Linked DNA regions of Homo sapiens. The protein of the gene in region 1 purifies or fractionates together with the protein of each later gene. This does not show direct contact. Each region holds a gene or a part of one and is shown on either strand. Other genes may lie near its edges. The genes, in order: SUPV3L1 and TAF5.

Evidence for each region.
Region 2: the proteins of SUPV3L1 (region 1) and TAF5 fractionate together in Homo sapiens (co-fractionation; one large-scale study listed by BioGRID). This does not show direct contact.

What each region holds. Positions count from the first base shown.
Region 1 is NC_000010.11:69,206,914-69,209,805, forward strand, and holds the end of SUPV3L1 (ATP-dependent RNA helicase SUPV3L1, mitochondrial), read left to right. Parts: intron 1-879; coding exon 880-1,028; intron 1,029-1,686; coding exon 1,687-2,122; 3' UTR 2,123-2,180; downstream 2,181-2,892. UniProt on the Homo sapiens protein: Major helicase player in mitochondrial RNA metabolism. Component of the mitochondrial degradosome (mtEXO) complex, that degrades 3' overhang double-stranded RNA with a 3'-to-5' directionality in an ATP-dependent manner.
Region 2 is NC_000010.11:103,377,675-103,381,615, reverse strand, and holds part of TAF5 (transcription initiation factor TFIID subunit 5), read right to left. Parts: intron 3,382-3,941; coding exon 3,066-3,381; intron 2,009-3,065; coding exon 1,845-2,008; intron 1,733-1,844; coding exon 1,597-1,732; intron 1-1,596. UniProt on the Homo sapiens protein: The TFIID basal transcription factor complex plays a major role in the initiation of RNA polymerase II (Pol II)-dependent transcription.

The DNA.
Region 1 (2,892 bases):
GGAGAATCACTTGAACCCAGGAGGCGGAGGTTGCAGTGAGCCAAGATCGTGCCATTGCACTCCAGCCTGGGTAACAGAGCGAGACTCCGTCTCAAAAAAATAAAAAATAAGGGAGGACATTAACAAGATAGAGAAACTTAAGCTCGTATTTGAGGTTATAGGACTATTACATATGAGATAGAAATAGGAGTCTTCAGGTACTGTCTGTCCATAGCTTTAGAACATCACATATTCCTAAATAAGAGTTAACAGACTTAGGCCCTGGAAAGTTAGTCCTTCTACAGCTTCTTTTTTTTTTTAACTGCTCCTTGTGGAGCAGGGATACCCTATAGGTAGTGTGCCCAGAGTAGCCCTTGAACTTCTGCTGCACATATTATTACCCTGGTTTTAGAAAAAGAAGGAAATCATCTTTTTTTGTTTTTTCTTTCTCCAAATGGTCTCACTGCTGGAGTGCAGTGGCACGATCATGGCGCACTGCAGCCTTGACCTCCCTGGGCTCAGTAATCCTCCACCTCAGCTTCCTGAGGAGTAGATGGAATCACAGGCACACACCACCATGCCCAGCTAATTCTTTGTGTTTTTTGTATGGATGGGGTTTCTCCATGTTGCCCCAGCTGGTCTCGAACTCCTGGGCTCAAGTGATCTACCCGCTTCAGACTCCCAGAGTGCTGGGATTATAGACGTGAGCCACTGTACCTGGCCTTATAAAGTATTAAATGTTCTTTAAAATGTAGAAGAGTATAAAGGAGAAAAGAAACCACCTGTCTATTGAAATACAACCACAATGTTTTGTTTTGCTTTCTTTTTTTTCTCTTTCTAATTATAGACTTAAGGGAATTCTGACACTTCTCTGAAACCCTTTTCCTCTTTCTCTCTCAGTTTGCCAGGCAGTATAGCAGGAATGAGCCCCTGACCTTTGCATGGTTACGCCGATACATCAAATGGCCTTTACTTCCACCTAAGAATATTAAAGACCTCATGGATCTTGAAGCTGTCCACGATGTCTTGGATCTTTACTTGTGGCTAAGGTACCAACATTTTTCCTTTATGTGCTCTCATTTTTCTAGTAGGACAAATTAAAGGTTTTATGAATTTGTTTTTCTATTTCAAATTATGGACATATTTGCAAGATGCTCTATATTATGTCTATTGTCCATAAAGGCAATTCAACTGATGGAATGGTTTCCCATTCCAAAAATGACTTGAGTTCTTGCAATTCTAGTTAAGATGGCTAGGTGAGAAGGAAGGTCCACTGGACTCCTGCTGGTCAAAGGATGGTCCTTGGACCAAAAGCATTGGTATCACCTGGGAGCTTGTTAGAACTAAGGAGTATCAGGCCCATGCCTGACTTGATCAGATTCTGCATTTTAACAAGATCCCTGGGTGATTCACTTGTACATTATCATTTGAGAAGTCCTGTTCTAGGCCAGTGATTCTCAAAGGAGGGGCATGTCCCTCTCCAGGAGTATATCAGAGTCTATTGAGGTATAGTGCTGACCCACCCTCAGGATGACATATTCCTCCGATATGTGGGGGCAGAAATCAAGGTTGAGCAAAGGCACTGAAGAGAGTTTGCAAAAAGAACATTTAGAATTTATCAATGTCATGATGTAGGTGTGCCATTGAGAGTTGTCCAGTGACTGCGATAAGAGCTGTTGCTATAATGCTAATGTGTCTTTTTCCCAGCTACCGATTTATGGATATGTTTCCAGATGCCAGCCTTATTCGAGATCTCCAGAAAGAACTAGATGGTATTATCCAAGATGGTGTGCACAATATCACTAAATTGATTAAAATGTCTGAGACGCATAAGCTGTTGAATTTGGAGGGCTTTCCATCAGGGAGCCAGTCACGATTGTCAGGAACCTTAAAGAGCCAAGCTAGAAGGACACGCGGCACCAAAGCTCTAGGGAGTAAAGCTACTGAGCCACCCAGCCCCGATGCAGGAGAGCTGTCCCTTGCTTCCAGATTGGTGCAGCAAGGACTCCTCACTCCAGACATGCTGAAACAGCTAGAAAAAGAGTGGATGACACAACAAACTGAACACAACAAAGAAAAAACAGAGTCTGGGACTCATCCAAAAGGGACGAGAAGAAAGAAGAAGGAACCTGATTCGGACTAGTTTTCTGTTCCTGTTTTTTTTTTTTTATTTAATTTTGCAAATAAAAATTTATTTTGAATCCTTTTTCCTCATATGCATTTACTCCCTCCTCTAGTATTGTGGCTATCTGGTACTGGGGGATTTTTGGTGTGTGTGTGTGTTTGTGTGTGTGTTTGTTTGTTTTTTCTTTTTTTGCACAGAAAAATCTCTCTTGATGACTAAACTTGTTTTTTTTTTTTTCAACATTTAGAAAATACTAGGATATCATGGAGGTTTAATTTAAGTCTTTATATAATGGCCATTTGTAGAATAGTACTAAGACAGTGCACTATAAGGAACTCTGCATGGGAATAAAATCACTTTGGTGAATTGTTTGACCAGTTTCCTATGCCATGCTGAGGATGTCATGGATGCAGTTCTTTGACAAACATTGCTGTCTGTTGTACCCATATACCAGAGGCTATTTAGGTGCTGGAAATATGCAGTAAGCAAGACTGACAATCTTCTACCCTCATGGATCTCATATTTGGTAGGAGAGACAGGAACAGGTTAACAAATAAATCCTGTCAGATCGGTGAGGGCAGAGATTGTAGTCTATTTCACTACTGCATCCACAGTATCTGGAATATAGCAGAAGCAAAATCATTCTTTGTGAGATGAATGGGTGTAATTTTAGAGATGAATGCTAGAAAGAATAAGGAAAGAGTGATGCTGAGTGGCAGGGAAGGGCTGTTTTAGGTAGGGTGGTCTTCCCTTGTCCAAAGGCCAGCCTACACTTGTTCAACGAAGTT
Region 2 (3,941 bases), about 34 Mb from region 1:
TATTTTAAGGAATATATAAAGACTTTTAAAATTCTTGATTTAAAATATTGGCCAAGCGCACTGGCTCATGCCTGTAATCCCAACAATTTGGGAGGCTGAGACAGGTGGATCACCTGAGGTTAGGAGTTCAAGACCAGCCTGGCCAACATGGTGAAACCCCATCTCTACTAAAAATACCAAAATTAGCCAAGCAGGGTGGTGGGCACCTGTAATCCCATCTACTTGTGAGGCTGACGCAAGAGAATCACTTGAACCCAGGAGGCAGAGGTTGCAGTGAGCCAAAATCGTGCCACTGCACTCCAGCCTGGGCGACAGAGTGAGACTCCATCTCAAAAAAAAAATAATAATAAAATAAAATACTAAGTTTGGCCGGGCGCGGGGGTTCATGCCTGTTATCACAGCACTTTAGGAGGCTGAGGCGGGTGGATTGCCTGAGCTCAGGAATTCAAGTCCAGCCTGGTCAACCTGGTGAAACCCCTTCTCTACTGAAAATACAAAAATTAGCTGGGCGTGGTGGCTCATGCCTATAATCCCAGCTACTCAGGAGGCTGAGGCAGGAGAATCACTTGAACTGGGAGGCGGAGGTTGCAGTGAGCCAAAATTGCACCACCGCACTCCAGCCTAGGTGTCAGAGCAAGACTCCATCTCAAAAAATGAAATTAAATTAAAATAATAAAATAAAATAAGGTTTATATGGCTGGGCACGGTGGCTCACGCCTGTAATCCCAGCACTTTGGGAGGCTGAGGCGGCCAGATCACTTGAGGTCAGGAGTTCAAGACCAGCCTGGGCAACACGGCAAAATCCTGTCTCTACTAAAAATACAAAAATTAGCCAGGCATGGTGGAGGGTGCCTGTAATCCCAGCTATTCAGGAGGCCGAGGCTGAGGCACAAGAATCGTTTGAACCCGGGAGGCAGAGGTTGCAGTGAGCTGAGATCTCACCTCTGCACTCCACCCTAGGTGACAGCACAAAACTCTGTCTCAAAAAAAAAAAAAAATTGATAAATAAGTTTACGTAAGTACTTAAACCAAGTTCAACAGAAATGAACTACAATTTGCTCCTCCTCAAAGGCTAGCAGAATTCTGATCGGTGAAACAAATGCCATTAAACATTGACTTCTATCTATTCTGTGCAGTATCCAATTCTCTCTTCCTGAATGCTGTCTTTAAATTGTATAAGAGTTTAGGGGCCACATGCGGTGGCTCATGCCTGTAATCCCAGCACTTTGGGAGGCTGAGGCAGGCGGATCACAAGGTCAGGAGATCGAGACCATCCTGGCTAACACGGTGAAACCCCATCTCTACTAAAAATACAAAAAATTAGCCGGGCATGGCGGTATGCGCCTGTAGTCCCAGCTGCTGGGGAAGCTGAGGCAGAAGAATGGCATGAACCTGGGAGGCGGACATTGCAGTGAGCTGAGATCGCGCCACTGCACTCCAGCTGGGCGACAGAGCGAGACTCTGTCTCAGAAAAAAAAAAAAAAGGAGTTTAAATAACGAAACTCCATTTTAGCTAATACATTTGTTTCTCTCTTAATGGTAAATCATCATCCTACATGACTCTCCAGGCAGAAATCGCCCAATTTTTTTACCAACCTGGTAAGCATTGAGAAATGTATAGAAACAAATGGAGGGTAAGCAGTCCGGCCCAAGGCGCACTCGTTTGGTGGTTTCTTTCATATTCATTATCTTATCCAACTTATCTGAATCTTTCAACTCAGGAAGAGGGATTCTGTGAAAGAAAAAGAGAGTCAAAATTACCTTTTGACTATTAACAAACTTGAACTCTATATAACATGTTGTCTTATACCTCCACACACAAGTTCCTGAAGTTTTTTCCTCACCTGTTCTGAGGTGGAGCATTGGGATCTTGTTTTTTGCTTTTGGATCCAATACTATCTTTTTTAGGCTTCTTCTTTTTAGGTTTTCCTTCTTCATTTTCTCCCTCTTCATCCTCGTCATCCAAAGGTACCTCAATTTCTGGTTCTTTTAATAAACCAAAAAATACCTACAAGTCAAAAGAGCCAACATTTTTAAAATTATTTATTCATTAATATACCCATTTTACATCTTGATAGGATAAATCACAATTACAAAATAGTAATTTACACTCTGAAGCAGGGTTCTGTATTTGTCTACCCAATAGCCATTCTCCCCTTTTTCCTTACTAACAGAACCCTGATTTTATTGGAGTAGCAATGTGCTCAGTTAAATCATTTCTGTTCCCAGGCTCCCTTTCAGCTAGGAATGTCCATATAAGTATACTGGGTATGGTTGTATCAAAAAAATATTGTTTTCCTGATTAAAAAGGGAAAGCTTCAGCAGAGATATGCCTTTTGTCCTCCCCCTTCTTCCTTCTTGGAACGGAGCTGCAATGCTGAAACTGCAACAGCCATTTGTGAGCACAAAGAGGAAAGCCACATTCTGAAGATGGTGGATCAGAAACCAGAAGGAGCCAGGGACCTTGATGGCACTGTGGAGCCTTCATGCCAGCCCTGGAAGGCCTTCCTCTGAAATTCATTTTATGGGAGAAAAATTCTTTGTTTCAGCCACTGCATTCAGGGTTCCATAAAATGCAACCATACCCAAATTGTCACATATAAACATCACCCTTAGAACACAAAATTTTATATACAGTATAAAATTGTTTCCAAGCGGCCAGGCGCAGTAGCTCACGCCTGTTATGCCAGCACTTTGGGAGGCGGAGTCGGGTGGATCATCTGAGGTCAGGAGTTCGAGACCAGCCTGGCCAACATGGTGAAACCCTGTCTCTACTAAAGTAAATACAAAAATTAGCCAGGTTGGTGGCGTGTGCCTCTAATCCCAGCTACTCGGGAAGCTGAGGCAGGAGAATCACTTGAACCCAGGAGGTGGAGGTTGCAGTGAGCTGAGATCACGCCACTGCACTCCAGCTTGGGTGACAAGAGCAAAACTCCGTCTCAAAACAAACAAACGAAAAAAATTGTTTCCAAGCTAGCTATAAGAAAAATGTGTAACTTATGTAGATGGAAATGCTACAATTTTTCATAATCTGCATTATAGAGTTCTTAGGTTCATTCCCATACCTTTGATTTGTTTGCCTCTCGTTTAGCCTCTCCTGCCAAACTTCCCACCATCGCATCTATCTGTTGCTTACTACGCGGCATCCCATCAAAGATGTCAATGTAGAGGTGCTCCTGAACTATGTTCCATATCTGATTGTTCTGTTTCTCCTGAAGATGCCTCTTCAAGAGTTGGTACGAGTCACGGGAAATACGCAGAACAAATTTACTTGTTCGAAAATCCAACATGGTCTCATTCCCTTTCATGTGTTCCTTTTTGGTAAGACTAGATAATACTCGTAGGTCATCCTGGTAATAACATTCCTGATCTCCATGGAACCTGTTTCAGTGATTTTAAAAAGTCATTTTTCAATGTAATCATTAAGGGATCTGCCTTTCCCCCATATACTTATAAACCATCCCAGAATATTTTCAATGTAGTAGTCTAAATAATCCTGAACTAAGCTGTAGGATAAGAAGTAACTCATTTCAAAATGACTATAATTCAGTTTCTGAATTTATTCTAAAAATGAACAAATGTAATTCTCTAATGAAATGTATCACAAACATTTTAAGAAAAGAACTTAAATATCCTAAGTGAAAAATAATATACCCACCATTGGTAGACAGTTTCTTTAGAATGGAGACATTTAAAAGAAACTGGTAGACATTTGAAAATATAAGAACCCTTGCTTTACTAAATGTTATGGTTTCTCAAAACCCACTTTTAAAAGTTTTATTATGAAAATTTCAAAGGCATAAAAAAGAGTATAATGAACTCAATGTACACAGTACTCAGCATCTCAACAATAATCAATATATAACATTCTCATAAAACCCATCATTTTTAATGATTTCCTATATTTATTGGAAACATGTACCAGACATTTTTAAAATATC